Regions from separate parts of the Homo sapiens genome. Here region 2 is linked to region 1. The links come from fine-mapping of genetic effects on gene expression. Tissue or cell type: testis. Region 1 holds a variant in brackets; the other region holds the start of a gene. All regions are shown on one strand. Distances are from middle to middle. Region 1 holds the start of LOC105377425 (a long non-coding RNA gene). Region 2 holds the start of SNHG27 (small nucleolar RNA host gene 27).

Evidence for each region. PIP is the estimated chance that this variant, and not a neighbour inherited with it, causes the effect.
Region 2: SNHG27 starts here. The variant in region 1 is the best candidate, but not a certain one, in a credible set for the expression of SNHG27 in testis (GTEx, PIP 0.67).

What each region holds. Positions count from the first base shown.
Region 1 is chr4:131,792,040-131,807,680 of GRCh38, forward strand. LOC105377425 (a long non-coding RNA gene) reads left to right here and starts at 12,138. Exons shown (of 5, transcript XR_007058477.1): 1 at 12,138-12,218; 2 at 12,463-12,573. The variant G/A (reference allele first, on the strand shown) is at 7,439.
Region 2 is chr4:131,758,071-131,773,711 of GRCh38, forward strand. It overlaps SNHG27 (small nucleolar RNA host gene 27), which reads left to right and starts at 6,768. Exons shown (of 3, transcript NR_125884.1): 1 at 6,768-6,997; 2 at 15,496-15,622. It also overlaps the pseudogene LOC124900177.

The DNA.
Region 1 (15,641 bases):
TCATGTATACAATGTACTTTTATTTACGCTTTTCTCTATCATTAAGTAGAAAGCCATTTGCACCTTAGTCTAAATCTGAAATGTGCCTCTACCTAACCTTTCTAATACATTTTCACTATTTCTTAGTTATTAGAATAAATTTGCATAATTTCTGAAACAACTTTCTCTATGGAGTATTCCCTTTAGTTTCTTTTCCCTTCCAAACAATTTAATGAATTACAAATATGGGGGAGATATTTTTTCAATGGGTAAGACTTGACTTCTACAAATACATGTTTAATTCCTTCTCAAAATTATTTCTACTTCCTCTTATTCAACACTGTGCTAGATTTTAGGGATATATAATAAGACAATATATGAGGTCCTTGCTGTCGTGAAAGGTACATTCTTATCTTTGGCAAATTGTAGAATCTTTAGTTTTGGTGTGCAAGGGCATTGGTGTTTGGTACATGCTTGGCTCTTTGCCTTAAGAATTGCCTCTTTCCACCATGCATATTTCACCTGTGTGGGAATCCTTGCAGATCTCTATATTATTGATAGTCATTTTGCTCCGACATTTTGTACAAAGCTGAATCAGCAACAGTATGACTAAACACAACCAAAAAAGAAAGCTAGAAAGATTATATTAGACACTTACGTGTATGGATCATTATGGTGAGGACTGCTAAAAAAAAAAAAAAAAAAACACCTTCAGCCAAAATAAATTTACAGTTTAATTGAGTAATGAATGATTCATAAATTGGAAAGCCCCCACAATCACAGCAGATTCAGAGAGACTCCAGCGGTGTCTCATGGTCAGAATGAATTTATAGACAATACAAAGTAAAGTGACGTATAGAAATCAGAAGTGAGGTACAGAAACAGCTGGATTGATTACGGCTTGGCACTTGCCTTATTTGAACACTCAGCTGTATGCGACTAGTTGAAGTATGGCTGCTGGACTTGGCCAAGACTCAGCGATTGTTACAGGCGCATACTCCTAAGTTAGGTTTTAGTCTTGTGTACCTATTGAGTTAGGTTGCAGTTCATTCACAAGGACTGAAATACAGAAGTATGGCGTTTTTCTCAGGCCATATTTAATTTGATTTAACAGGACTTTGGGTATGTCATTGTATTTTACTAATATATTTTACAAACACCCCATGTTATCTTAATCTATTTAAGTTCACACTTTTTAATGAAATTTTACTTTAAATGTATCTAACCTCCTAAATTTCTGCCTTTATGAACCAATAATACTTTTTCCAAATTCTTATTATAGCACATATCAGACTATATAGCTATAGACACTTTGGCATCATTGTTTTCCCATACAAAACACAATACATTTAATGAATTAATGAATGATGCATCAGCAAAGAAGCTTTTACTGAAAGTAAGAAAAATTATAAGCCAGTTTGGGTTTCCCAAGAATCAGACACCAAGATGGAATTACACATATAATACAGTAACCAGAGAAAACGCCTTTGAAGAATAAAGAGAAGATAGAGCAAAAGGAGGCTGCAAGAGCCTCCAGATCATGATGCAAGCCTGGCACCTCAAAAGAAGAGAGAGCATGAAAGATAATTGGAAAGGAGGAGCCTCAGAGAAGAGTGCAGATCTGAGAAATTGTCAGTGAAAGAGCACCAAAGTGAATTTTGACCTTTAGATGAGTCCACGTGGGACAAGAATGAAAAGCCCTGTAATATCTTCCTTGCTCAGCATTGGCAGGGAGCAACCTAAGGAGAGCATGGCACCTGCATGTAAACCAAAAATAAAATTCAATGTCCGTTAACCAACTAAATGGGCCCTTTATCTTGGCCAAGGGCATTTTAAACTAAACCTGAAACAGTAATGGAGGCCATGATGGAAATGGGTGGTTGAACATGCCTCGTTATTTACTTTCATCCTTTCGGAATTCATGCATAGCTGAACAGTGTTAACATTAAAGTAGAGACTTAAGAATGACAAAACAGACTCTTCGTAGCAATAAGATATCAACATGACAGATAGCAGGCCTTGAAAGAAAAAGTATTTCACCAAAAAAATACATTTCTTTGACATATTTTGAAATGGCCCTACAAAGCTGTTTCTGTGGGGAAAATCTCCATTTTGTAGAGAATCCCGTTGTCTTTCCAAGTCTTTTTCCTGATTTTTCCTGATTCCAAGTCCTTTTTCCTTTTTATGTCTGATAAAAATCATTTACAATCTATTCTCAGTGAAGCCTGCTACCTGCAAGCTTCATCTGCATAAGAACCTCGGTCTCTAAAACACCTTATCTTAACCCGTACACTCCTGTCTATTGATTCCGGTCTTTAGATAAATTATTTTAGCCAGTTCTCAAATGCCAATCAGAAAATCTTCGAATTCACCTTTAACCTGGAAGCCTTCACCCACCCCACCCCCACCTGCTTTGAGTTGTCTCACCTTTCCCGATTTTACCAATGTATATCTTAGGCGTACTGATTGATGTCTTATGTCTCCCTCACATGTATAAATCCAAGCTGTAGCCCAACAACCTTGACACATGTTCTCAGGATCTCCTGGGCTGTGTGACAGGCCGAGGTCACTCATATTTGCCTCAGAATAAATCTCTTCAAATATTTCACGGTTTGACTCTTTTCTTCAACATGCATTATCACTGTAGTAGCTCTGAAGTGGTTGAGTTGGAGGTAACCCACCAACAACCCTCCTCATGGAAATTTCTCTTGAATGAAAATATGGGAGGAGTAAATTCTTCACTGCCAAATACTATTTCAAATTCTTTCAAGCATAAGGTACATTCATTATTTAACCTAAAAGTCAATCAAGAGGTAAAAAGAGGTCACAGTTTGCTTACGTATTTTCTGGCACTTCTTTGCTATTGGCTGTGTCACTTTTACCCTTGACATTGCTGCAAAAATGTCTGCAGACATTTAGGGTCATCATATTCAGATACAACCCTACCCAGAAGACCAAGAAAGAGACACCAAGAGAAACATTTATTTTAAAAACTCTTAAGGTAATTTGCCCTGATTTGCCTTTGTGCTGAATTGGGTCATATGTTTATTTTTGTTCTTATTTTTGGCAAAGAATCAGGCTATACTTAGAGTAATCACATCATACCTGAATCTGAAGACGAGACAGTAAACTTAGAGAAGTACTGAAGCCTTGGAAGCCTTGGATATATTGAATATGTTCTATCTTAGAAAGAAAAGGTGAGATAATGTATGCTGGCAGTCAACCAACAGCATATTCTCCTAATGAACAACTGGAGAGTCATTTAAGTTCAATGTTGGGGATTTTATTAGAAACTGTAAGATGAAGACACAATTCATTTTCTCTTTCCCTGTAAATTTGGACAATATTTGCTATATTCGCCTATATTTTGGCATAGAAATTTAGGTTCTAAGTATATAGTAGTGATATAGCCTTCTTACAGGGTCACATAGACCCACAAGTAATAATTTTTAATACTCTTTTTATTCTCTCTGGTTGGCTAACATTAAAACAATCCACAGAAAACCCCCAAGAGCTATGTATTGAGGATGGCAAAACCACAGATGGGAAAATAATGAATCTTTGAATGACCCTGCGGGAAATCACAAATAGCATTCCTATTATTTAAGCAAGCAATAACTTTTATTGTTTTAAGAGTTGGAGGTTTAATTGTTTCAGTATTACTGTTACCACAATTATTACAGGAAATGAAATGAGTAAAAAAAAATAGAGGGAACAAGGTTTATTGACATCTATGAGGCATTTTCTTTCCCCTAATATTACATACTCTAGATTTTATTTCTGTACAAAAAATATTCTCTATGTCTAGCATAAAGAACTATGTCTTATTCATATTTATACTCTTCATAGATCAAAAGTGTGCTTAAAATACTGTACATTTAATGAGTTATTTTTGAATGTAAGCAACTTTGAATTCATCTTTGCATTTTTAATCTTATGTTTCTATTAAATGTATTATTAAATTCTACTAACACTTTCCTCAAAATAATTCTCAATATTTTGGTTTTTAATTTTTTACTGCCTTTGCATTCTCCTGGCAGAGACCCATTTCACCTCTCCTATAGATTATTTCATAAAGATTTTATCATCCGTATCATATATATTTACAATATTAAAAGTTATCTGTAGCATGCTCTCATTGTTGCTTATAGATTAGGTTTGCTTCTCTATGTACTACTCTGGTAGGCAGTGGTTAAATATACTGCTTTAAGCCTTTTCACAGTACCTTCTATAATATCATCATGCACAGTTTTAGGCACACAGCAGAAAATCAATGAAACATATTTAATTGACTAAAAATTGAAAGACATTGGTATATATGTAGGACAGATACTGATATTTTTATAAGCCCAACTCTGAAATGGTGATACACAAAAAGTTGATAATTTTTTTCAGCAAAAACTATTAATAGTCATTTTTCAACATAATGTAAAATATATTTGAGATTGATAAATATTTTAGAACTCAAGTGTAAGAAAGCCATTAAGGGAATCCCACAATTTTCATTGTTTCTAAAACCTAATATAATTTAAGATTATGAACAGCCTTCTTTCTCAGCAGAAAAACATATCACCAACCCACTACATTAAAAAAATGCATTATTCCAATCAATCTTGTTAATATACCATAGAATATTGAATTTTTTAAGAAAATTCAGAACTTTAAAAATAAATACTAACCATAATAGCTCAATTAAAATTATCTCTATATTCTTGGAGGTTTTCAAATGCCATATCTAAAAATAGGATATAGTAAGGTATATCCAGGGATAAACTAGCTGTTAAAAAATAATTTATTGAGACCTGTTATTATTGGCTGAGTAAACTTCTCTTATCTTCCAAAACATGTTCCATTATTTCATAAGATCTAGAAATGATACCATGTTTGAAATTGGTTGAAAGGTTTCCCTATTGACCTACTTATAAATGGGTTATTTACATATTCAGGGTAATTACTTGTGCTTAAAACTGTTTTCAAGATAAATATGAACTGTGTCATTGTTCATATAAAAGAAAGATGCTTCTTTTCAATTAATTTCTATTAGTTAATAATTCTACAAATTATGTTTATTTCAATGGAGATTAAAGAACATAAAAAGAATAATGTTTCTGTTTTAGACTATATTAGTAAACCAGTTGGGGGGTGGGGCAATGAGGATAAACTCCATCAAAGGAACATAAGTTAGAAAAGTTGTAACATAAACTTAGGTTATAAGTCTGAATTACCCTAGACAGTTAGTCTATGGAATATGAGACTCTATGCAGCCTCAGCTGGCAGCACTGCCCTTAAGCAAAGATCATGAAAGAGATGCTGAAATAATTAATCAGGCAGAAATTTAGTATAATATTTCTTTGGGAATGTTCTCCGATACTTGGAAGTCAAAATAACAAGTAATTCTCACTTCCATTCTTTGTCTTCTCAATATACATCCCTATATCTTGCAAGGCATTTAGCAAATTAGAGTACATTTACCAGCCTCCTTGCACTTTGATGAGGCAATGTAACTAATTTTTGGACCATAACATGTGAACAGAAGCAATATTTGCAGCATCTAAAAGAAATGTGTGTGACCTTTTACCCCTGTTACCATGCTTTAGAATTCATAGCTGTTTTCAGCTATTTTATATATAAAATAAGCATATAAAAGCAACAAAATAAATCAACATTGTAGAGCTATCGTGACATCACTGGACTTCTCCTAAAAGTTTTACGTGAAAAATATGTGAATTATTTCAAGCTGCTCTACTTGTTTTTCATAGACTGTCATTAATTAATTTTTTATGTACCACTAAAAAGCATTTTAAAATGCCTCTAAACTATGGCACACTGCTAAATATTTTCTAGATGTCTCAAAGAAGTTTTTATATGCAGTAATTTTGTTTTACATACACATGCATACTTACTGATTTCAAGTTTTTTCAACTTTCATATGAAATTGAAAGTTGAAAAGGCATATGAAATGTCTTTTTGAAACTCCTAACTCAATTTAATTTTTTTTTTTTACATTTAGGTTTACCATATTGTTTTAACAAAATGCTGTGTATTTATTCTAATATTTTAAAAACTTTAGGAATAAATTAATAATTTGGATTGTTCTACAGTATTGTATCCTGAACTGGAACTTTTTTTACTGATTTATTAATTGGAATATGAAATATGATATGCACATGTGAAAGACACAGATCTTAAGCATATAGCTTTAAACATTTTTAGAATGTCATCACAACCTACATGAATATGAATTGAGTATTACTAGAATCCAGGAGTCTCTATTGTGAACCTCCAATCATTACTATAGGCAACCACTGTTCTTACTTTTATCTTTATAAATTACATTTGCTTGACATTGAACTTCATAGCAATTGAACCATACAATAGATATTAATTTCAATCTGGTTCAAAAAACACAACCAACAGCGTGGGTGTCAGTGTGAAATTCTGGGCTGCTTCTCAGCTGAATCAATGGTGCTGACAGCTGCAATAGCAACAGCAGTGTCTTCAGAAGTTTTACTGAGAGTTTGGAGTCCAGAGTTTCTGCCTAACAGCAGCTGCACTCAAATAGGGCCAATGGTCAGTCTGGAATCATGGGACCCAGAATGCACCACCTTCCCCTATTCATTTTTCACAGTTAAGGATGGAAGTGGCTTCCTTCATTTGCTCATCATCTGGAGTAGCAGGCCTCTTTTGCTCTTTCAGCGTTTCTAACATTGTTGTAACCATGCCCCCAACCCCTGTATTATATTGTCTATCCTTTAAAAACTATTTTGTGGACTTGTATAAAATTTATTTTCCCATTCCCAGTATAAAATAATTGGGTCATTCTTTACTCATGTATCAATTCAAATTTCTAAGACTCTATTTATCTCTTCTCCTCAATAATGTTTCTTTTTTCTTTTTCTTCTTTTTAGACAGGGTCTTGTGCTCTCACCCAGGCTGGAGTGCAGGGGCTGGAACACAGCTCCCTACAGCCTCGACCTCTTGAATTCAAGTGATCCTCACACTTCAGCCTCCAGAGTAGCTTTGATGACAGGTGTGTGCCACCAGGCCCAGCTACTTTTCTTTACTTTTTGTAGAGACATGGTCTTGCCATATTACCCAGGCTAGTCTCAGACCCCTGGGCTCAAGTATCCTCCTGCCTCCACCTCCCAAAGTGCTGGGATTATAGGCATAAGCCACCATGCCCAGCTAATGTTTTCTATTTACCATAGCTTTTTGCATATATATGTTATTATATATATGTAATATATATATAATATAGTATGTATGTGTATATACTATATTATTAACAATTAGATCTAAAATATAGAAATAATTTTAACACCTTTATTTTCTGTACCTTCATAGTTAATCTCATATTTTCCAAATCTGTTAATGTGGCACTGGTCAGAGTTATAGCTCCAAAGAATGAGCATCCGCTCAGTCTCATAACCAGGACCCAACCTGCAACATTAATGTTACA[G/A]ATTAATTCCTAATTCCAGTCTCACTCTTTCATCACCAGTTCTATCTTTGCACACTTACTAATCCCAATTATTTTAAAGCAAGTTGCTTAACCTGCTGTGGCAGTTTTCCCCTCTCCTTCAACTTTCTCTCTCTCTTTTTTTTTTCTTCTAATAATACCTGCCAAGTAAGAATCCCTTTCATTACGTACATCAAATATCCACTTCCTCCAACAATTTTATTCAACCTAAGTATTCAACCTAAGGGCTTAGATTCATGGTCTGTCCTTACAATGCTGTTCCATCTTTTTAAAGCTAATTGCAATGCATCTAGTCATTTTTATTGCAGCACTATGTATAATAGCCAAGATACAGAATAAGCCTAAGTGTCTGGCAACAGATGAATGCATAAAGAAAATGCGCGATCTGTATACAATGAAGTACTCTTTAGCCATAAAAAATAAAATCTTGCCATTTATGACAATATGGATGAATCCAGAAGACATCGTGGTAAGTGAAATAAGCCAGACACAGAAAGACAAGTACAGCATGATCTCACTCATAAGTGGAGTCTAAAAAAAAAAAAGAAAATACAAACATTTAAAAAAGTTAATATCATAGAAGCAGAGAGTAGAAAAATGTTACTGGAGACTAAAGACGGGAGGACGAAAAGAAGGATGAGGAAACTTTGATTGATGGTATAAAATTACAACTAGATAAGAGCAATAAATTCTGGTGTTCTGTTGCATGTAGAGCAAGTATGGTTAACAGTGAAATATCGTATATTACAAAATAGCTTGAAGAGTTGTCTTCGAATGTTCTCACCACAAAGAAATGATAAATATGTAAGATAATAGATTCACTCTGAATGGATCATTGTACAACATGGATAGGTATCCAGGTATCAAATTATACCCCATGAGTATGTACAATTATTATATGTCAATTCATAAATAAATAAGATCACTAGATTTAATCAAGAGAATCTTATTGACTTGTTCTCATTTTAGAGTTTTAAAACTAGTCTGCCCTATTGCAAACTACCTATTTTTAAAACTACTCTTCTCCTGCACAAAAATCTCTCAAAGTCTCCTTTCTCCTGAAAGAAAAATGACCTATTTAATTTACAAATATTTCAAAAATTAGTGCACATTTTATATATGAAAAGAATGCTGTAGACTGATTTGCAAATAACATTCTAAGATTCCCATTACCTTTAAGAGGAGTCAGCTGTCATTTTGGAAAAATTAAGATTTCAACAATTTTACACATATGAAAATATTTTTGATAATGAAAAATGTTCAATCTTAAATCATGTAAATAAGTAAATAGAGAGGTAAAATAAAGAGCTTAATGTTTATGTGATATTGAGAAAAAATCTTTTTTAAAAATAAAATACAGATTAAAAAACAACTTTGTGCTTTAACTGAAGGGTGTCCCTACTCCCTGATGTGTTTGAGACTGTCACAAACCTGAACCCATTTGGACAATACATCAAATAATCATTTTGCATCGTTTCACTATTGGGGAAATGAGAACTTCTTACATTAAATGAAAAAAAAAAAACTGAAAAAGTAGTATTACTTTGTCTTTTAAGTGGCAAGATAGGGTTGATATGATGCCGAAGTATAAACAGTAAGGACTAAGTGAGGATGGAGGATATATGAATAAATGTATCAAAAGTCAAGAGAAATGATAAAACAGTCAATTCTGGGGAACAGTAGTAGAAGCTACGCATGGAATATGGTTAGACAGACAGTGATATTTACTTTTGAGTTTTGCTTATATATTTCTAACATTTCCTGATAGGACTGGCATTCTAACAGTTATTCTTATTGTTATAAATTCTTTTAAAAATATTTTTTCTCCAAACATCTCAGTTCAAATTATAGAGTTAAAGGAAACTATGGTAATAAAATAAAATATTAATTATTTCAAAAGAAAAAGAGAAAAATTTGTACACTTAATTTAAAATTGTTTTCAGTCTTATTTTTGCAAGCAATTTACCAATAGATTTGTAATGCACAGTAATGTTGAATGGGTATTGAAGCTATTGAAATACAGAAGTAAGTTAGTTTTTCATTATGCTGTGAGTGATGTCCTGAAACACATTAACTTGATATTTTATCTATTGTTTAATATAATTCCCCATGAATTACATATAATGGTAATAGATTAATATCTTTGGAAGTACTGTAAATAATTATATAATTCAGCCAGGAATTACCTTGCTCATTTGCTAACATTATTATATTCTTTCAAAAGCAAATAGCAAAAATAATTTTCAACTGACATACATATGGAATACTTACTCTTCAATTATCTCAAAATGCCCAGATTTTCTCAATAACTTTCCTATTGATTTAATTATAGGCATTAAAAATGAGTATTCTAGTACAAGAATAAATAGTGTTGTCTCTCCTTCGTCCCCCAGTACTCCTAAATATTTACTAAAAATCTCAATGCTAATCAATAGTGGAAGTATTTGGTGCCTAATGATGGCATTCCATTCCTTCCTTGAAGTCCAATACACAGAGTAATAGAAATCTCATGAATGTGATTGTGTGAGGTGGCTCATAATACTTGGATCTATAGAGAGAATCACTTAACAGACATTAGTTGAATCAGAAACTACTTCTCATTTCATTGAGTTCTATGCAGTCCCCAACCTTTGTGGCACCAGGGACTGGTTTTGTGGAAGACAATATTTCCATGGACAGGGGAGCAGGGGATGGTTTTAGGATTATAATGGTTAATAATAGATGTCAACTTAATTGGATTGAAGGATGCCTAGATAATTGGTAAAGAATAGTTTCTGGGTGTGTCAGTGAGGGTGTTGCTGGAGGAGATTAACATTTGAGTCGGACTGGGAGAGGAAGACCCATCCTCAACGTGGGTGGACACCATCCAATTGACTGTCAGCTTGGCTAGAACAAAGCTGGTGGAAGAAGGTGGGATAAGCTGACTTAACAAGTCTTCTGGCTTTCATCATTCTGCTGTGCTGGATGCTTCCTGCCCTTCGACATCAGACTCCAGGTTCTTTAGGCTTTGGACACTTGAACTTACAGCAGTGGTTTTCCAGGGGCTTTCAGGCCCTTGGCCACAGACTAAATGTTGCACTGCCAACTTTCCTACTTTTGAGGCTTTTGTAGTTGAACTAAGTCTTTGTTGGCTTCCTTGCCCCTTAGCTTGCAGACAGCCTATCATGGGACTTCACCTTGTGACTGTATAAGTCAATTCTCGTTAATAAACTCCTTTTCATATATACATATATCTTATAAGTTCTGTCCCTCTGGAGAACCCTGACTAATACAGGGATGAAACTGTTCTACCTCAGATCATCGAGCATTAGATTCTCATGAGGTATGCACAACCTAGATCCCTTGCATGCTCAGTTCATAATAGGGTTCACATTACTATAAGAATCTAATTCTGTAGCTGATTCGACAGAAGGCAGAGCTCAGGTGGTAATGCTCACTCACCTGCCGCTCACCTCCTGCTGTATGATCTGATTCCTAACTAGCCATAGCTCATTACCAAGGGTTGAGGACCACTGTGTTAAAAGATAAACTAAGGCACAATAGAATTTTAAATATGTTATTTACACAATGATTTATGACTCAGGCAGCTCCAAACCATAAAAGTGGCTTAAGAGCTCCACTGAGGGAGCACAGGGGGAGGCTTTTAGAGGACAGGCACAGAAGAAAACTAAAGGTAATGTTTGACTATTTATAGTTGTACAGTTATTTGTACCTTATTTGGTACCAAAGTTGTACCTTACTAGGTCTATCCCATTGGAAAGTCTTCAGTTATATGATTATGTGTGTTGGCTACTTCTGATTGGTTGAACTTAAGTTCTGTTTTTCTTTAACATAGAAATTGATAAGAATAGCTCAAGTTTCCCTTATATCTGTAGATCAATCAAGGTTTAGATCACTTATGATGCCTAACTGCTTTTGTCTGCTCAGAAATTCTTCAGGCCTGGACTCCATTTTAATTTACTTTAATGATTGTTACTTTAAATTTGGATTAAACAGTGGATTCATATGTACTGAGTGGAAAAAAATGGAAATAGATGTTATAAAATTTATTTGAAATCATTCAGCCAGGATGTTTTAAACAGCATAAATTAGCAGAATTACCAAAAACACATTTTGAAAAAACCTTGAAGCAATTTTAATGTATTGCAAAATGTTAAGGAGACTAGTGGGACAAAAACTTAAAGGTTGAGTTTGAGATATGATGCAGGGTTTTTTGCTCCTTAGCCCAGCTAGGCCTAAGTTCTGAAGAAGTAGGCACATGGACACTCAAAGAGTAAGTGTAGTAGAATTTATTTAGTGAAAGGAAAGCTCTCAGCAAAGAGAGGGGTCCTGATGCCAAGTTCTTGGTTGCCCCCTTAATGGTTGAATACAAGGGCATTTTTTTTTTTTCTTGAGACAGAAACTCACTCTGTTGCCGAGGCTGGAGCGCAATGACGTGATCTCGGCTCACTATAACCTCTGCCCTCCAGGTTCAAGCAATTCTCCTGCATCAGCCTCCTGAGTAGCTGGGATTACTGGCACACGTCACCAGGCCCGGATAATTTTTGTATTTTTAGTAGATATGGGATTTACCATGTTGGTCAGGCTGGTGGTCTCCAACTCCTGATCTAGTGATCTGCCCGCCTCCGCCTCCCGAAGTGTTTGGATTACAGGTGTGAGCTACCGCACCCGGCAACAAGGACATTTTTATACAAGCTGATAGGGCTGTGAATTCCTGGTTGTATGAGACGTGAATTCCTGGTTGCTCCACTCCATCTTTCCGGTGAGTTATGTGGGCCCTTAGTCTGTGCCGCTCCATATTGATTTATTTCCCTTAATGCACATATGTTAAGGAACGAAATTTTCCACTATGGGCATGTTTAGGCAAGCTCCCTTAGCAAGTACCCTTATCTGCACAAAATATTTGGTATAAGCACCTAGGGGGTGGGTAGGAGGTTCTCCAGGGGATCCTTTCCTGACTGTCTCCCTAAAGCAAGTTGGCTGACTCCTTTCATTCCTCCCTTCAGGAGTGGAGACCCCAAATTCTGTTGGGGAAAGTGTACAACTACTGCTCTTAACTGCTTCCTGCCGACAAGGGGTGCTGTTTTGGGAAAGTGGCAGTTAAGGCTCCTCCTGAGGTCAGTTTAAGGGTCCCCAAAGAGAACGGTGTGTTCATGAGTGGTTCTGTTTGCATCACCATTTGAAATTGAATGGCCTTTAAGTGAGAAGAAACAATTTGGGTTATTAGAGGACACATTCAAAATGAAACAAAGGGATAAGGACAGCTCAAAACAAAACAAAACAAAAATCTCAAGGCTGCCAATACAGCCAGATAACTCGTGGCTATAGTTATGCCTGCTAAGGTTTGTATTCATGGGGCTTGGCTTTGATTAGCTCCCTTGGTCTTATTTTCCCAAACAAAGAAACCTCTGGGTTATGGGCACGTATTTACTCCTATCACCTGGAAGGATTTGCAGGATAATTGTTCAGAATTAAAATATTGATCCAGATTTTTTATATTACTCATCTCTTTGGTTCTTTTGAGCTGCAGCCATACATTGCTGGTTGGTCCAACAGGAATAAGCAGGGTAGTCTAAAAAGTAGGCAAAAACTTAAAAACAACTAATGGGATTATAATGTAATGACAAATGTAGAATAAGTTTTGAAACATAATTTCTCTCTCTCCAGTCCTCATTTTTGTCAAAAACAAATCATGATAGGACTCAGTTGTTTGAAAAATAAACTTTAGCCTTATACTTGTCTTATTTGCATAAAGTGCAACAAGAATAATTATTTTTCCCATAGGATTTTAAATTGGCTTTGATGGAACTCTGTTCCATAAGGAATCTCAGTTAAGACCTTTTAAGGCCAAGCCCAGCCATGGGTTTCCATCCTCAAATATCTACGAGTTTGGTAAATCATTCTCTTCTTGATGTCCCAAGAACAAGCTTTTTAACAGGCCCAGGAGCTTTTTAACAGGCTCCTAGCCCTGTTAAAAAGTGACATGCTTTACTCCCCACGGGTTAGGAACCTTGTACAAGGACTGTGTTGACAAGGTATGTAGCCAGTTTTCCCAAGGGACTTTTATTGGCAAGTCCAGCTTAATTACTTAAAGGAACATATACCCTTCCAGTAAAAGCCTCGGTAAAACCACCAGTTTCTTCAATCGTGTCCTGTTGCAAAAGAAAATGTATTCTTATTGCACTGATGAAAATAACTGTATTGCCATAAATTAAATATTCTCACAAATAGTTTCCAAATTCTGGCAAAGCCAGGCAGAGAGAAACAAACGTCCTTCAAATTTTGTTCACAGGCATATAGTTTACTCAATTATTAAAGGCTTTAAATAGTTCAAAATAAGTATCCTTGACTCAGAAAAACAAAGCAAGGATCACCAAAGTTTTAAGCAAAAAGGTTAAAAATAATACTTGTTTTCTATTAGTTCAATCCATTCTGTTCTCTTGTTCTGCTTGATATTCATGAACATTTCAGTTCTTCATGAGTACTGTATTTTTTTCAATGTCATAATCTCCAGAGTTAATGGAATCTTGCATTGAGAACACTTGTCAAAATCCTATAGCTGATTATAAATCATCTTTTGAGTAGGATCAAAACAAGTCATTTGTCTGTGAAAGATGAAATGTCCAGGGTAGTTACTGTCAAGAATACAATTGACAAAGAAATTTAGTTATTTCTAGGGTTTACAATAACGAAACATAATAACCTTAATCATGATTGATAGCATATACTCAGACATTAGAATTTTAGAAATCTCATATAATTTTGAAACATATTAATATTATTCACTAAAATATAACCTAAAGAAGATTAAATATAACTTTGGAAATACCATATAACTAAACATTTCAAAAAATCCAGTTTTCTTCTCTTTTGGATGTTCCAGGGACCAGGAAAGACAATTTTGAAACTGAAGTTTGATTTTGGGAAGCCTGTTAAATACGTTAGAGGTTCAAAGCACTTGATATTATAAAATAGAATTCCAAGTTACCATATGTCATTTATTTTAGCCAAAATGATGACTCAAACATTTTAAAACAACGCAAAAGCATATTCACAGTAAGAGGGAAAACTTAGCTTTCCAAACAATCTGTCGTTAATTTTACAGGGAAATCCTGTTCAAGTGAAAGCCTAATTTCATCCTTGCATTAGTCTACTGCTGATGTCAACCCCAATTTTTTTAATGAAAACTTATAGACAATTATATCTAATCTTATCTAGGTTGACCATGAGGTGAGATTTTTTTAAACTTTTATAACCCTTTACAAATTGTTGTTAAAGAGCGTATCAGTGCCTTTAGAAAACCTTGTTGTGCTTTTATTTCAATGCTCAATTTACAAAAACAAAATACTTTTTTGAAATTAGTCAATATGTTCACACAATTTCTTTTGCAAGATTAATTTTTACAAACCTTTCACCAATTGTTTAAACCTTCAGCTTTATCTTATCTAATTCAAAACAATCCTTTAACCCAAGGCAAAAATTTACATTTTCATGCATTCTTATAATCTTTTACTAAAAATATATTTTACTTTCCTTACTTATGTTATATGTAAATCTATTTTCATTGTCTCTATTACAGGTTATTATGGTAACTGTTAGCAATTTTTAACTTTAATGTAAAACCTGGCAAGTTGCTTTAATTATGTAGTAGGCATAAATAAATTCTGATTCCTTCCTGCATAATTAAGGGTGTGGTTAATTCCATATGTCCCTGGACTTATTAATTGTGAAGCAGGCAAATTGAATAGTGTATTAGTCAATTTTCATGCTGCTGATAAAGACAATCTTGAGACTGGGCAATTTACAAAAGAAAGAGATTTAATTGGACTTACAGTTCCACATGGCTGAGGAGGCCTCACAATCATGGCAGAAGGTAAGGGGGAGCAAGTGACATCTTATGTGGATGGTAGCAAACCAAAAAAGAGAGCTTGTGCAGAGAAACTCTCATTTTTAAACCATCAGATCATGAAACCCATTACTGTCACGAGAACAGCATAAAAAGACCCACCCTCATGATTCAGTCATCTCCCACTGGGTCCCTGCCACAATACATGGAAATTACGGGAGCTACAAGATGAGATTTGGGTGGGGACACAGAGCCAAACTTTATCAAATAGTTCTTAAAAGCCAAAGAAGCAGTTAATAACTTTGAATCATTTAGCTAACCTAGTGTCTGACCTACATG
Region 2 (15,641 bases), 34 kb before region 1:
CCGGTTAGCAGTCGGTTTCCCGGCGGTTCCGGTTTGGGGGTCTGTGAGGGCCTGGGCAATGCCGGCATCTGCTTCGGAACCGCAGGGGTTTTCGTCCCCTCCCCATCCGGAGCAGCCTCTTTGCTAGGCTAGATCCAGACGACCGCTCCCCAAGCAAGGACAACGGCCTCCCAGGCGCTCATTGTCCACCCGCAGGAGGGTGCCCGCAGACCTTCAAGAGGATGGTTCTCACGCCTCTCGCCCTCTCCCTCATGGAGAAATGGAGCCACAGCTCGACGCAGGGACGGAGAAGGAAGCCGGCAAGGGGATGGGGCAAGCATCTCTGTCACTCAAAGGCTGGCCTTCCTGGCCGAGTCACCCGTCTGACACTCCTCCCCGGATGCCCGTGGTGGTGGCATGGCCCCGTATCCTGCCTGGGCTCTGGCCTCTGCTCTGTCCTCCCTTTTGCTGTGTCTGCCCCGTCTCTGAGAAGCATGGCGGCTTCTTAGTCTGGCTCAACGTCTTCAACAAAGAAGACTTCCCAGTCCAGGGACAAACCCCGTGGGCGTCCGTGTCATGATCGTTTCCCTCTCGACACCTCTTTCTGCATGATTGGGCAGGTGTGGTGATCCTGGAGCTCTGGGCTTCCATACCTGTGTGGGACAGGGAAGCTCTCTTGGTCTCCATGGCCCAAGTGATGGCTGCGCGCTCAGTCCAGGAAGAGGGGGAGGCAAGCCCACCGTTCCCCACATTGGCCTTCCAGGAAAGGCGGTGTTGCATCCCACCTGCACTTCCTGTCTGATCCTTGAGGGCCAACCGGTTCCTCCGCTCCTGGGGAAAGCGCCTTCTGGCACTGAATCTTTTGGCTGCCACGGATGTCAGGGAGCCAACGGGACTGGGTTTTGGCTGGGTGCAGGGGAGGTTGCGTAAGGGGTACCTAAGCGGTAGCGGCGTGGGGGTGGGGTGTACTTGGTCCAAAGCTCTGGGCTCCTCTGGCGGGCCTCCCTGAATGTGGCCTGGACTCGCGCACAGGCCCTGTCTCGCAGGTTTGCAGGTGCGCTTGGCTTTTCCTCCGCTTTGTGGGGCAGGTCTCCAGTGGCCCCCGGGCGCACGCCTGGACATCACTGTCCGTCTCGTCGTCGCCCCCTACGGCCTCAAAGACACACGCTCTCTGCATGTGCTCTTGGGGGACGTCAGTGCCACGTTTGGTCACACGGGCTCCAGCTCGGACTCGCCTCTGTCTGTCTTTGCCGGTGTCGCCGGAAGCTGCGTCGGGATGCCGGAGCCCCCGGGCTTTGGAGATGAAGGCAGGCCCCTGCTCCACCCAGGATGGAGGGAGGCAGTGGGCTCATGGGTCAGTGCCGTTGCAGACGACAGCAAGCCTTGCGGCCCTGGGGATCTTTCCGTGCCCCGGCGAGACCCTTTCCGCCTCACTGCATTGTAACCCCATTCCCGATCAGCCGGTGGGAGCCATCATCGGATCCCAAGAGGAGTCCGCGCAGCCCAGCCAGCACCCCGAAGGTCCTCCTTCACCGGGAACAGAAGCAGGAGACCGATCAAGGAGGTCCTGACGACAGGACTCCTATGGGTCCGACCCTGGGTCTCCCGCAGGCCCCTCTGGTAGACCTCTTCCCACCCGCCGCCTCGGGCTGCGCCGCAGCCGCCGCCGCCGCAACCTCCAGCACCACCACCCTAGTCCCCGCAGCCGCCGCGTCACCGCCATTTTTTAAAGGGTCCGCAGCCTGACTCTGCTGAGTAAGGAGGGGTGGGGCGGGTGAGTCGGCCTCGCCAGTGCGCATGCGCGAGGCCCCAGCCGCCGCTTTGGTCACAGTGACCGCCACCGTTGCCCGGGGATGGGTCCCTGAGAATTGGCGAAGTAGGAGCCCTTTGTGATTCTGCGTCAGAGTCGGGGCTGAGACCAGTCCTGGCCAGGGCAGTTACCAGGACGGTCTCCGGAGGCCGGGATTCGCGGAGGGTCCGCCAGGAGGAAGAAACCTCAGATAGATCGCCGGGGACGCAGCGCGGGATCCCAGCCTCAGGCGTGCACGGACGGTGTGCGGGTGAGTCTCCCCAAAAGTAGCGCCCTTGTGATGTGGAGGACAGGTCTGCCAGGGTGTCCGTGGGCTGCTGTCTCACCGGTGGCCTCGTAGTCGCGGAGAGCAGAACCCGGCAGCTTCAGGGGCAGCCTGGGGGTGGGTGTTACCTGCTGTATGTCTGTGTGCGTCTTGGTTGTGTGTGTGTGTGTGTGTGTGTGTGTGTGTGTGTGTGTGTCTGTGTGCGTGCGTGCGTGGCGTCCGTGTGCCCACTTCTGTCTATCTCTTACGTCTCTCTCTCTCTCTCCCCCCCCTCGCTCTTTCCGTCGCCCTCTCTTTCTATCTCTGTCCGTCTGTGTGTGCTTGTGCCTCGGGACACATGTGCCCCGTGTGCCGGAGGGTGGGTTTCTTGCAGGTCGGCCTTTCTTCTGGTCAGCCTCTCCCCGCGTCTCTGCCTCGGTCGTGTAGCCGGTTAGTAGTCGGTTTCCCGGCGGTTCCGGTTTGGGGGTCTGTGAGGGCCTGGGCAATGCCGGCATCTGCTTCGGAACCGCAGGGGTTTTCGTCCCCTCCCCATCCGGAGCAGCCTCTTTGCTAGGCTAGATCCAGACGACCGCTCCCCAAGCAAGGACAACGGCCTCCCAGGCGCTCATTGTCCACCCGCAGGAGGGTGCCCGCAGACCTTCAAGAGGATGGTTCTCACGCCTCTCGCCCTCTCCCTCATGGAGAAATGGAGCCACAGCTCGACGCAGGGACGGAGAAGGAAGCCGGCAAGGGGATGGGGCAAGCATCTCTGTCACTCAAAGGCTGGCCTTCCTGGCCGAGTCACCCGTCTGACACTCCTCCCCGGATGCCCGTGGTGGTGGCATGGCCCCGTATCCTGCCTGGACTCTGGCCTCTGCTCTGTCCTCCCTCTTGCTGTGTCTGCCCCGTCTCTGAGAAGCCTGGCGGCTTCTTAGTCTGGCTCAACGTCTTCAACAAAGAAGACTTCCCTGTCCATCAGGGAGAAACCCCGTGGGCGTCCGTGTCGTGATCGTTTCCCTCTCCACACCACTTTCTGGATGATTGGGCAGGTGTGGTGATCCTGGAGCTCTGGGCTTCCATACCTGTGTGGGACAGGGAAGCTCTCTTGGTCTCCATGGCCCAAGTGATGGCTGCGCGCTCGGTCCAGGAAGAGGGGGAGACAAGCCCACCGTTCCCCACATTGGCCTTCCAGGAAAGGCGGTGTTGCAGCCCACCTGCACTTCCTGTCTGATCCTTGAGGGCCAACCGGTTCCTCCGCTCCTGGGGAAAGCGCCTTCTGGCACTGAATCTTTTGGCTGCCACGGATGTCAGGGAGCCAACGGGACTGGGTTTTGGCTGGGTGCAGCGGAGGTTGCGTCAGGGGTACCTAAGCGGTAGCGGCGTGGGGGTGGGGTGTACTTGGTCCAAAGCTCTGGGCTCCTCTGGCGGGCCTCCCTGAATGTGGCCTGGACTCGCGCACAGGCCCTGTCTCGCAGGTTTGCAGGTGCGCTTGGCTTTTCCTCCGCTTTGTGGGGCAGGTCTCCAGTGGCCCCCGGGCGCACGCCTGGACATCACTGTCCGTCTCGTAGTCGCCCCCTACGGCCTCAAAGACACACGCTCACTGCATGTGCTCTTGGGGGACGTCAGTGCCACGTTTGGTCACACGGGCTCCAGCTCGGACTCGCCTCTGTCTGCCTTTGCCGGTGTCGCCGGAAGCTGCGTCGGGATGCCGGAGCGCCCGGGCCTTGAAGATGAAGGCAGGCCCCTGCTCCACCCAGGAAGGAGGGAGGCAGTGGACTCATGGGTCCGTGCCGTTGCAGACGACAGCACGCCTTGCGGCCCTGGGGATCTTTCCTTGCCCCGGCGAGACCCTTTCCGCCTCACTGCATTGTAACCCCATTCCCGATCAGCCGGTGGGAGCCATCATCGGATCCCAAGAGGAGTCCGCGCAGCCCAGCCAGCACCCCGAAGGTCCTCCTTCACCGGGAACAGAATCAGGAGACCGATCAAGGAGGTCCTGACGACAGGACTCCTATGGGTCCGACCCTGGGTCTCCCGCAGGCCCCTCTGGTAGACCTCTTCCCACCCGCCGCCTCGGGCTGCGCCGCAGCCGCCGCCGCCGCAACCTCCAGCACCGCCGCCCCAGTCCCCGCAGCCGCCGCGTCACCGCCGTTTTTTAAAGGGTCCGCAGCCTGACTCTGCTGAGTAAGGAGGGGTGGGGCGGGTGAGTCGGCCTCGCCAGTGCGCATGCGCGAGGCCCCAGCCGCCGCTTTGGTCACAGTGACTGCCACCGTTGCCCGGGGATGGGTCCCTGAGAATTGGCGAAGTAGGAGCCCTGTGTGATTGTGCGTCAGAGTCGGGGCTGAGACCAGTCCTGGCCAGGGCAGTTACCAGGACGGTCTCCGGAGGCCGGGATTCGCGGAGGGTCCGCCAGGAGGAAGAAACCTCAGACAGATCGCCGGGGCCGCAGCGCGGGATTCCAGCCTCAGGCGTGCACGGACGGTGTGCGGGTGAGTCTCCCCAAAAGTGGCGCCCTTGTGATGTGGAGGACAGGTCTGCCAGGGTGTCCGTGGGCTGCTGTCTCACCGGTGGCCTCGTAGTCGCGGAGAGCAGAACCCGACAGCTTCAGGGGCAGCCTGGGGGTGGGTGTTACCTGCTGTATGTCTGTTTGCGTCTTGGTTGTGTGTGTGTGTGTGTGTGTGTTTGTGTGTGTGTGTGTGTCTGTGTGCGTGCGTGCGTGGCGTCCGTGTGCCCACTTCTGTCTATCTCTTGTCTCTCTCTCTCTCTCCCCCCCCCCTCGCTCTTTCCGTCGCCCTCTCTTTCTATCTCTGTCCGTCTGTGTGTGCTTGTGCCTCGGGACACATGTGCCTCGTGTGCCGGAGGGTGGGTTTCTTGCAGGTCGGCCTTTCTTCTGGTCAGCCTCTCCCCGCGTCTCTGCCTCGGTCGTGTGGCCGGTTAGCAGTCGGTTTCCCGGCGGTTCCGGTTTGGGGGTCTGTGAGGGCCTGGGCAACGCCGGCATCTGCTTCGGAACCGCAGGGGTTTTCGTCCCCTCCCCATCCGGAGCAGCCTCTTTGCTAGGCTAGATCCAGACGACCGCTCCCCAAGCAAGGACAACGGCCTCCCAGGCGCTCATTGTCCACCCGCAGGAGGGTGCCCGCAGACCTTCAAGAAGATGGTTCTCACGCCTCTCGCCCTCTCCCTCATGGAGAAATGGAGCCACAGATCGACGCAGGGACGGAGAAGGAAGCCGGCAAGGGGATGGGGCAAGCATCTCTGTCACTCAAAGGCTGGCCTTCCTGGCCGAGTCACCCGTCTGACACTCCTCTCCGGATGCCCGTGGTGGTGGCATGGCCCCGTATCCTGCCTGGACTCTGGCCTCTGCTCTGTCCTCCCTCTTGCTGTGTCTGCCCCGTCTCTGAGAAGCCTGGCGGCTTCTTATTCTGGCTCAACGTCTTCAACAAAGAAGACTTCCCAGTCCATCAGGGAGAAACCCCGTGGGCGTCCGTGTCATGATCGTTTCCCTCTCCACACCTCTTTCTGGATGATTGGGCAGGTGTGGTGATCCTGGAGCTCTGGGCTTCCATACCTGTGTGGGACAGGGAAGCTCTCTTGGTCTCCATGGCCCAAGTGATGGCTGCGCGCTCGGTCCAGGAAGAGGGGGAGGCAAGCCCACCGTTCCCCACATTGGCCTTCCAGGAAAGGCGGTGTTGCATCCCACCTGCACTTCCTGTCTGATCCTTGAGGGCCAACCGGTCCCTCCGCTCCTGGGGAAAGCGCCTTCTGGCACTGAATCTTTTGGCTGCCACGGATGTCAGGGAGCCAACGGGACTGGGTTTTGGCTGGGTGCAGGGGAGGTTGCGTCAGGGGTACCTAAGCGGTAGCGGCGTGGGGGTGGGGTGTACTTGGTCCAAAGCTCTGGGCTCCTCTGGCGGGCCTCCCTGAATGTGGCCTGGACTCGCGCACAGGCCCTGTCTCGCAGGTTTGCAGGTGCGCTTGGCTTTTCCTCTGCTTTGTGGGGCAGGTCTCCAGTGGCCCCCGGGCGCACGCCTGGACATCACTGTCCGTCTCGTCGTCGCCCCCTACGGCCTCAAAGACACACGCTCTCTGCATGTGCTCTTGGGGGACGTCAGTGCCACGTTTGGTCACACGGGCTCCAGCTCGGACTCGCCTCTGTCTTTGCCGATGTCGCCGGAAGCTGCGTCGGGATGCCGGAGCCCCCGGGCCTTGGAGATGAAGGCAGGCCCCTGCTCCACCCAGGAAGGAGGGAGGCAGTGGGCTCATGGGTCAGTGCCGTTGCAGACGACAGCACGCCTTGCGGCCTTGGGGATCTTTCCGTGCCCCGGCGAGACCCTTTCCGCCTCACTGCATTGTAACCCCATTCCCGATCAGCCGGTGGGAGCCATCATCGGATCCCAAGAGGTGTCCGCGCAGCCCAGCCAGCACCCCGAAGGTCCTCCTTCACCGGGAACAGAAGCAGGAGACCGATCAAGGAGGTCCTGACGACAGGACTCCTATGGGTCCGACCCTGAGTCTCCCGCAGGCCCCTCTGGTAGTCCTCTTCCCACCCTCTGCCTCGGGCTGCGCCGCAGTCCCCGCCGCAACCTCCAGCACCGCCACCCCAGTCCCCGCAGCCGCCATGTCGCCGCCATTTTTTAAAGGGTCTGCAGCCTGACTCTGCGGAGTAAGGGGGCGTGGGGCGGGTGAGTCGGCCTCGCCAGTGAGCATGCGCGAGGCCCGAGCCGCCGCTGTGGTCACAGTGACCGCCACCGTTGCCCGGGGATGGGTCCTTGAGACTTGGCTAAGCAGGCACCCTGTGTGAGCTTGGTCAGAGTCGGGGCTGAGACCAGTCCTGGCCAGGGCAGTTAACAGGAAGGTCTCCGGAGGCCGGGATTCGCGGAGGGTCCATCAGGAGGAAGAAACCTCAGACAGATCTCCGGGGAGACAGCGCGGGATCCCAGCCTCAGGCGTGCGCGGACAGTGTGCGGGTGAGTCTCCCCAAAAGTGGCGCTCTTGGGATGTCGAGGACAGGTCTGCCTGTGTGTCCGTGGGCTGCTCTCTTCACCGGTGGCTTGGTAGTCGCAGAGAGCAGAACCCAGCAGGTTCTGGGGCTGCCTGGGTGTGGGCCTCAGTAAGCTTACAATCATGGCAGAAGGTGACGGGGGAGCCAGCACTTCACATGGCTGGAAGCAGGAAGAAGAGTGAGAAGTGGGGAGGTGCTATACACTTTTAACAACCAGACTCACAATAACTCACTCACTATCGCAAGAACAGCACCAAGGAGATGGTGCTAAACCATTTAAGAGAAACCGCTAGATGATCCAATTGCCTCCCAACACGCCCCACCTCCAACAGTGGGACTTATAGTTTGACTTGAGATTTGGGTGGGGACACAGATCCAAATGATATCAGTGTGTTAAAAGGAAAAGGAGATAACAGTGGGAAATGGATATTTAACTTCAATTTGTGAGTTTTTATTTTAGAGTTCTAAAATTATGTCTTATACTACCTATACAAGTGCTGGAATATTTTCTGTATTAAGTGGTAGATATATAATATCCGAATATCATACTTACCTTCTTTGACCTTGCAGTTTAAGAGGGCATTTTAAGAAAGTAAACAAACACATTGATTTTTTTTTAAAGGAGAAATTTTTCAGTAAACGATATAGGTACGTTAACATGGGCGATATAGGAAAGTTACTGATGGAGAGACAATCCTACATAGAAACCTAAGGAAGCAATTAACTCAGACACAGAGATTGAGAAGAGTAAAATGGAAAATGGGTGAAATCTGGGAAATCTGTTGCTTCCAGTAGAAGAAACATAATATTGAAGGAACAGAGATTGATGTCAAGAGTTCAGGGAAACAAACCAGAATAAGAATGTTTAGACAAAAGGCTGATGGTAGAAGGAAATTGAGACTGAAAGTTATAGAGAGCACAGGCTTACTCGAAGATTAGCAGACAAAAGAACATCTGTAAGTTCAATCATGAAGGAGTGCCAGAATTAAAGAGAAAATAAGGAAATAATAAAGGGAATCTTTTGATGTGAGGAACCAATTGGGCTATGAACTCAGCCTGCTAGCCTGCCATTCCAATGACAGTAGGAAATAAATGTTCTGTAAGTTATTTGAAAATTAGAGGACAAAGTAATTGTTTGTTCTATAGGTAGAGAAACATTTTTGTAAATGATAATACAGCTGTTCTACCAATTTCTCTTAATTTTCAAACTTTTTGAAGGGGTACACTATATTTTCACGATTTGTTCATTCTGATTTCCAACTCATATTTGTTCATCATTTTCTCTTTACTTTTTAAAAAGTTGAAAGACATTCATATCACAAAATTTTCACTGGATAATTTTTCTTGTTGCAACTGTAGATTTTTGTGGATATATACAAATCTCTCTAGTGACACATCTAGAGATTAATGTTATGTTCTATTCCATAGGGAGCAAATATACCACATGAAACATTGCAACTATGAATCTAACTAGACTGTACGGGCAACATATATTGAAAGATAAATTAAAATTGTAAGTTCTATGAGAAAACACAAACATTTGAGTAAAAAAAATGAGAAAGATGTAGTGGTGCCTTCTTCCTACGTTAGAAAAAAGGATCCATAATGAACAACTTTTTTTCCATGTATTTCCTACAATTGAGTAAAATAATGGGACTAGGCAAGTTTACTGGTTTGCATTTTTTCATCTGGGTCTGGTTTTTCATTTCAATTGTCAGCCGTTGTATTAACTACTTTCACCATTCAAAGGAATGAATGATCTGCCATAGTATTTTCTGCAGTTCCATCTCTTGTTTTCAGTATCATTCCAATTCTGCATCTATCTAATTTTGATCTCTGTTCTATTTATTTTCCTGATTCATAACATTTTGCTTTGTGCTGAGCTCCTAATTGTCTCTCTGTCATTCTCAACATTTTAGCCCTATGGTCTAAAAGATGCCCCAAAGAATGTAGCATATTCTAGTATATCAGTGGGACAACATAAACAACATGCTTAATTGTTAATCTATTTAAAGATGAAAGTGTTTTTCATTTTTTTAATCAATTTAATGCTGACTAGATCCTATAACTACATTCTGCTTTTTATAACTAAAGAGCTCCAGAAAAATAAATGTAATAGCTTTGCTGGAAAAGATTAACTTTACAATGCCTTCCTAATGACCTTACTTTTTTTTTTTTTGAAAAGTATTTTCTGGTATACAAAAATAATATTCTGAAATATCTCTGTGATATTTGATTGCCGGATTTAACCTACATACCTCTGAACCTTGGTTTTTCAGACATACAAACTGCTTAACAAGTTCCAATGCATTAATCAATACACCATTGCATAACTTAGAGTAAGAAAAGTTGGTAGATATTTCAGCAATGCCCTAAAATATGCTTCTATTTAACACTTTGAGACAACCAATACACTATTTATAGTGTTGAGACAAAACAAACCTAAGATCACAGAAAAATATTTATTTTAATAAAATGGTATTTAAGTAGATAGTTTTTTGTTGTGGTTTTTTTTTTTTTTTTTTGAGATGGAGTCTCCCTCTGTCGCCCAGTTCAGTGGCCCAGTCTTGGCTCACCGTAACCTCCCCTTCCCGAGTTCAAGCAGTTCTCCCTGCCTCAGCTTCCTGAGTAGCTGAAATTACAGGCATGCACCACCACGCCTGTTTAATTTTTGTGTTTTTAGTAAAGATGGGATGTCATTATGTTGTCCAGGCTGGTCTTGAACTCCTGACCTCAGGTGATCTGCCCACCTTGGCCTCCCAAAGTGTAAGTAGATAGTTTAAATGATTATGGGTTTCATAGGTTTTATTAATTTGTTTTAGTTAACATACAAGAGCACTACAAAACCACATGATTTTATTTTAATTTTTGTCAATAAACTTTATTATATTAAAGGCCATATTGCCCACTGAGTATGATTTTGATATGCACAACTTCTATAATTTACAACTTACTGTATATGGTCTAATATAAATTACATTTAGCTATCTTGAATAAAAGATACTACTCCCCAAAAACTTAATATATAAAATAATTTCTACAATCAATTAAGCCACACAGCTCTTTTTCTCATGGGGCCTGGTGTGCAAGGGCTGCAAACAGCAGCATCCTAGGTAGTGTACAGCAGCCTGTTCCTTGTGTACAACAGCCATTGGACATTTATGTCTCGGATCTAGTGCTTTCCCTAGTCTAGGTTTAAGACCGGATGTAGTATGCCTTTGGAAAGCCTCAGGACCCAGAGGTCAGAGTTCACATTGGCCATGTTCATCCATACCAAGGATGAACTTATTTAGGGCCAAGTTCAAGTTCAGTGAATGCCCAAAAAGCCACATCTCAAAGAAGTGCAATTTTACTAAGTTTAATGCATATACATTTTAAGACTTGGTGGCTGAGAAACAACTCATCCTGGATGGCTGTGGGGCTAGATATAGCCCTGGAATCATGGGCCCCTGGACAAGCAGCTAGCCCTGCATTAGAAAAGAGCTGCCCCCTCTTTACTCAGCCCACCAGTGAATTCTATTTCCTGTACATCTAATAAATCAATCCTATCTATCTATCTATCTATCTAAATAATTCAACAATATGAAGTAGATTAAAAAACACAACTTTATCTTGATGTCTAACTACTGTGGAAATATTTTGTCAGTTATTAACATTCCCCTTTCAGGTTAATATCAAGTCAACAAAAATTTGGAGTTCTCTTGACCCTTTCCCCAATGTGTAAATTAGTAATATAATGTCAATATTCAGACAGGCAAATAAACTAAGCTCCCTTTGATGAAAACGACATGCAGTAACGCTTCCCTACTGAGAATCATCTTAGTTTGTGAAATCATAATCTGGAATGGCTATATCTGCAAAATATATTAAAAGAAAGAAAATATCAAAAACATAATCTACAATACTTTTATGTATATCTAATCATTTTATATTTCTTTTTTATTATACTACTTGAAATACATACATAAAGGATAAAGAGTTTCAACAAATCTCAAAAAGGAAACCTAATTATGTATAATATTCTGACCGATTTTGCTTGCTCACCAAATTGAAATTGAAAAGAAAAAATGCAGCACTCTGTAAAAAAATAAAATGATTTCAAAATATAATTATTGTCTCCCTTTGAAAATATAAATGTTTAAATAATGGTGAAATAGAGAACATAAACATTCACAAATATTACATATCCATTCAACATTTTCAGGTATTATTTTGTTTTGTTCAAACCTCCCCTTCTGTCATTTTTCTCTCCTTTCTTTATCTTTAGCATAACTGAGCTGCTTTCCAAACATCTATAGTTATACCGGACATAGCATTTTCCAACATCAAACATGGTTTTTCTTAAACACCAGCTCCAAATATTAATTCCCAGGGAAAATGACATTTTCCATATATGAGAAATATTGGAACCAATATAACAAAACTGATTAACATTTATAACATTTGAAAATAATTTCACAAAAGTTTTATTTAAAAAAATTATATTGTAAATTTACGTAAGAAATTCTCTATCCATTATATGACTTGTATAATAACATCCACAGTATACTAAGAAAATGTTTTTAAAATATAGGATAAGGTGTCTAAATAATAAATTTTTAAGACCACTTAGTGCCACTATTAAAAATCTGAGAATAAGGCATGAATATTTTTTGATCTATAGAGATTATATATCAGCATGCCAGCATTGGCTTTTATTACAGAATAAGCATTTTAATCTTCATTAACTCTCATCAATTCACTATAGAAAGTAGCTTAAAAAAAAAAAGACCATCACTTGTAGAAAACAGTTAATATTTCGATGGTTTACCTGGAAGTTTACCAGGCATAAATTTATAAAATACATTTATGGATTGAAATAAACTGTTTTACTAAACAATATTACAGAATTCTGAATAGATGCTGATTAAGCAGCAAATCAACAAAACTGTTTATTTACCAGTTTGGTGGCTACCATGCTAATTAGATCATCTGTTTAAAATGTGTCCATATGGACAATTTTTCTGTAAATGTTTTCTTTATGTCCATATTGTGTGGTAGTATTTTCATAGAACCAAGTAGAAATTAACTTAAAAATTAGTTATTTAAAGATGACAATAGAAGATTTTGAACTTTGATTCCCAAAAGGCAAGCAAATATTTCTGAAATAAAATATTTTATATATTTAATTTCTAATTTAATTTACATATAAAATATTTTAAAAATTCATATGAATTTGAGATATTTTCACATTAATTGGACTGTTTTTGTACCTCATTTTGCTTGGTCACACTAAAGTGAGGTTCATCATCTTGTGGAACCAAAGGAAAACTAGTGTGATTATAAGGAAATTATTATAGTTAGACAACTGTGCATTAATTTCATCATTAAGGACCAAATGTATACAGATATAAATACTTTTCTTAATACATTACTTGCAACATATGCACAATTATGTAACAATTATGGTGAACTAAGTCTCCTAGAAATTTCCAAAATAATTTTTTTGCCTTTTTTTAACCTCTAAATCCATATAAATCAAGGGAAAATATTCTTGCACATATGTATATTTAAACATGAACCTAGCCAAAAGTAAGAGAAATTTAAAAAAGTGTAACATATCAAAATGTGGAAATTTCTGTGTTTAGGGAAAAATCTATCCCATTAAGAGCTTGCATTAGAAAAGAAAAATTACCTTGAAATTATGATGAAAGCTTCCAGCTTGTTATTATAAAAATGAGAACAAATTAATTCTGAAGCAATCAGAAGGAAGAAAATAATAAAGGTTAATGAAGAAATAAACAACATTAAATGGAGAAAAATTATATAGCTAAGTAAATTAAACTAAACTTAGATCTTTGAAGGGATCAATAAAATTGTTAAATCTCTGGCCAGACTAAGGAGAAAATAATAGGAAATAAATAATTTACAAATTTTAAGAATGATAGAAGTGGCTGGGGGTGGTGGCTCATGCCTGTAATCCCAGCACTTTGGGAGGCCAAGGCAGGCAGATCGTTTGAGGTCAGGAGTTCCAGACCAGCCTGGCCAACATAGTGAATCTCTGTCTCTACTAAAAATACAAAAATTAGCCGAACGTGATGGCTCATGCCTATATTCCCAGCTACTCGAGAGGCTGAGGCACAAGAATTGCTTGAAGCTGGGAGGTGGAATTTGCAGTGAGTGGAGATCAGGCCACTGCACTCAAGCCCGGGCGACAGAACGGGACTCTGTCTCAAAACAAATAAACAAAAAAAAAAGAATGATAGAAGTAACATTTCCATTGTCCTACAACAGTTTAAGGATAACTAAATGAATACCATGATGAAATTTATAAATGTAAATTAGTTAATTTAGATTAAATGTACAAATCCCTCAAAAGAGACTAACTACTAAGGCAAACTCAAAAAGAAAGCAATAACATGAACATCCCTATATATATGTTTTAAATTTATTAATACCCACCTAGATAAACTAACTGACAAATTTTACTAATATTTAAGGAGATATAATTTATACTTTACACAAAACTTTAAGAAATAAAAAAGAGGAAACACTTTTCAACATGTTTTATTAGTCTACCATTATCCCCATACCAAAACCTTAAAAAAGACATTACAAGAAAATGTCCTGTAGACAAATATGTATTTAGATGAGGAATTTAGATTTCAAAAACTTCAGCAAACTATTATCCAATTAAATCCTCTCATGTCTGTGTGTGTATGTGTGTGCATGCATGTGTGTTTGTAAAATATATCATTACTAATTGGCGTTTATCTTGGGAGTTCAAGATGGTTTCCATATTCAATCAACCCATCAATGTGGACTATGGTCATTTGAAAAGACCAGCAAATCCTCTACACAAAAGGCCACTATAAATTCATTAAAACAGCCTTCCATCACTCTCGAAATTGACCAAAGCATTCAACTACCTGAAAAATATTTATGTTTGGAAAGCTATTGAAATGCAGTTAAAAATATCAGGAAACCTGTTTTTACGTTTTGTCCTGATCTTGCTAAATCCTTCTTAATTTTGTGAGACACTGCTTCTCCTTCCACTGTTCCTTTACTTTCTCCTTCCCCTTTGTTTTTGCCTCCCCCTTCCTCTCCCTTTTCTACATTCCTTCTCTCTCCTAAATGCTGTATAAATTTCTACATATATAATCATATTATTTACAAATAGGAACAGTTTTACTTATTTCTTTCCAATCTGCATTTATTTTATTCTCCCTTTTTTTCCTTACACACTGGATAGAACTCTAAGTATTATGTTGAAAAAGAGTGATAAAAGCAAACATTTTTGCTTTATTCCTGAGCATACATGTGGAAAACATTCAGTGTTTCACAGCTAAATATGATGGATTTTTTTGTATGCTCTTTATCAAGATGAAGGAATTTTCTGCTATTTCTGGTTTGCTGAATTTTTATCACAAGTAACTGTTGAATATTGTCTTTTTCCCCTGCATTTATTGAAATGATCATGTGTTTTCCTATTTTAGAATATTAATATGGTGAACTATATTATTAGATTTTTTTAAATATTGAAACTGTCTTGCATTTCTGGAATAAACACGGCTTGGTCATGTGTGTCACTTTTTTACATAGTGTCGTATTCAAGTTATTGAGGATTTTGCATCTAGGGTATACTTGTAGATTTGCAGATTTGCATCTAGGTTATGTTGGTCTAAAGTTTTGTTTGTTTTTTTTCCTTTTCTTTTTTTATCATCTTTGTCTTATTCTGTTTAAGTGTCATGCTTGCTTCATAAAATGAATTGAGAAACATTTCTTCCTCTTCTGTTTCTCGAAAATTGTAGAGAACTCTTGTTTTTTGTTGTTGTTTGTTTGTTGTTTTGTTTTTTTCTTATTTTTATCCTCATACTGAGAACCAAATAGTCTGGAGTGTAAAATATGGTTCCTCATTCCAGTTAAGTCTAGTACACAATGACAACAACCATCTTGGGTTAAGCATTGGCCTACAAACAGAAAAAAACCTTCAGGGAGATAGATGCTGATCTAGGCATTGTGAGAAAAGCTGAATTCATTTTTAATCATGAATGGCTTTTAAGGAAAGAAGATTTATTAACTAAAATAAATAGATTAGAGGGAATTCTCATCTATGAGAGAGGAAGGGATGGGATTCAACCTGGAAAAAATGATGAAGTTTTAGTGAACTGGGTAAGGTAGACTCAACAATTAATGATGGATAATGCTAGGACCCAGCACCGGTAATGAGCTTGTATTATGACTCAATAGCATCACTTTATCACTTTAACGCAGATGGAGGCCTAAATAACCATAGGGCAATGGTTCTTCTTAGATGCAGAAGGACACATTTATATAATCTTAGGGACCCCATCTCTGAGGTCACTCATAATTTATATTAATTCATTATTATTGCCATTGCCCCAAGAATAGATAAGGATAAGACATCCTGTAGCACAGGTAGCAGAGATATAAACTATTCTTATTCTTGTGTCTTGTCTATAGGAAGGGAGTGTATCCTGGTGTATGACAGCATATAGTAGAGACCAGTGTCAATTAGGGCCTGTGAACTGAGACAGGGTGACTGGCTAAGTCCACAACCCATTAGAAACCCAGAAATAATCAAATCATGGTGAGTAGTAATAATACTT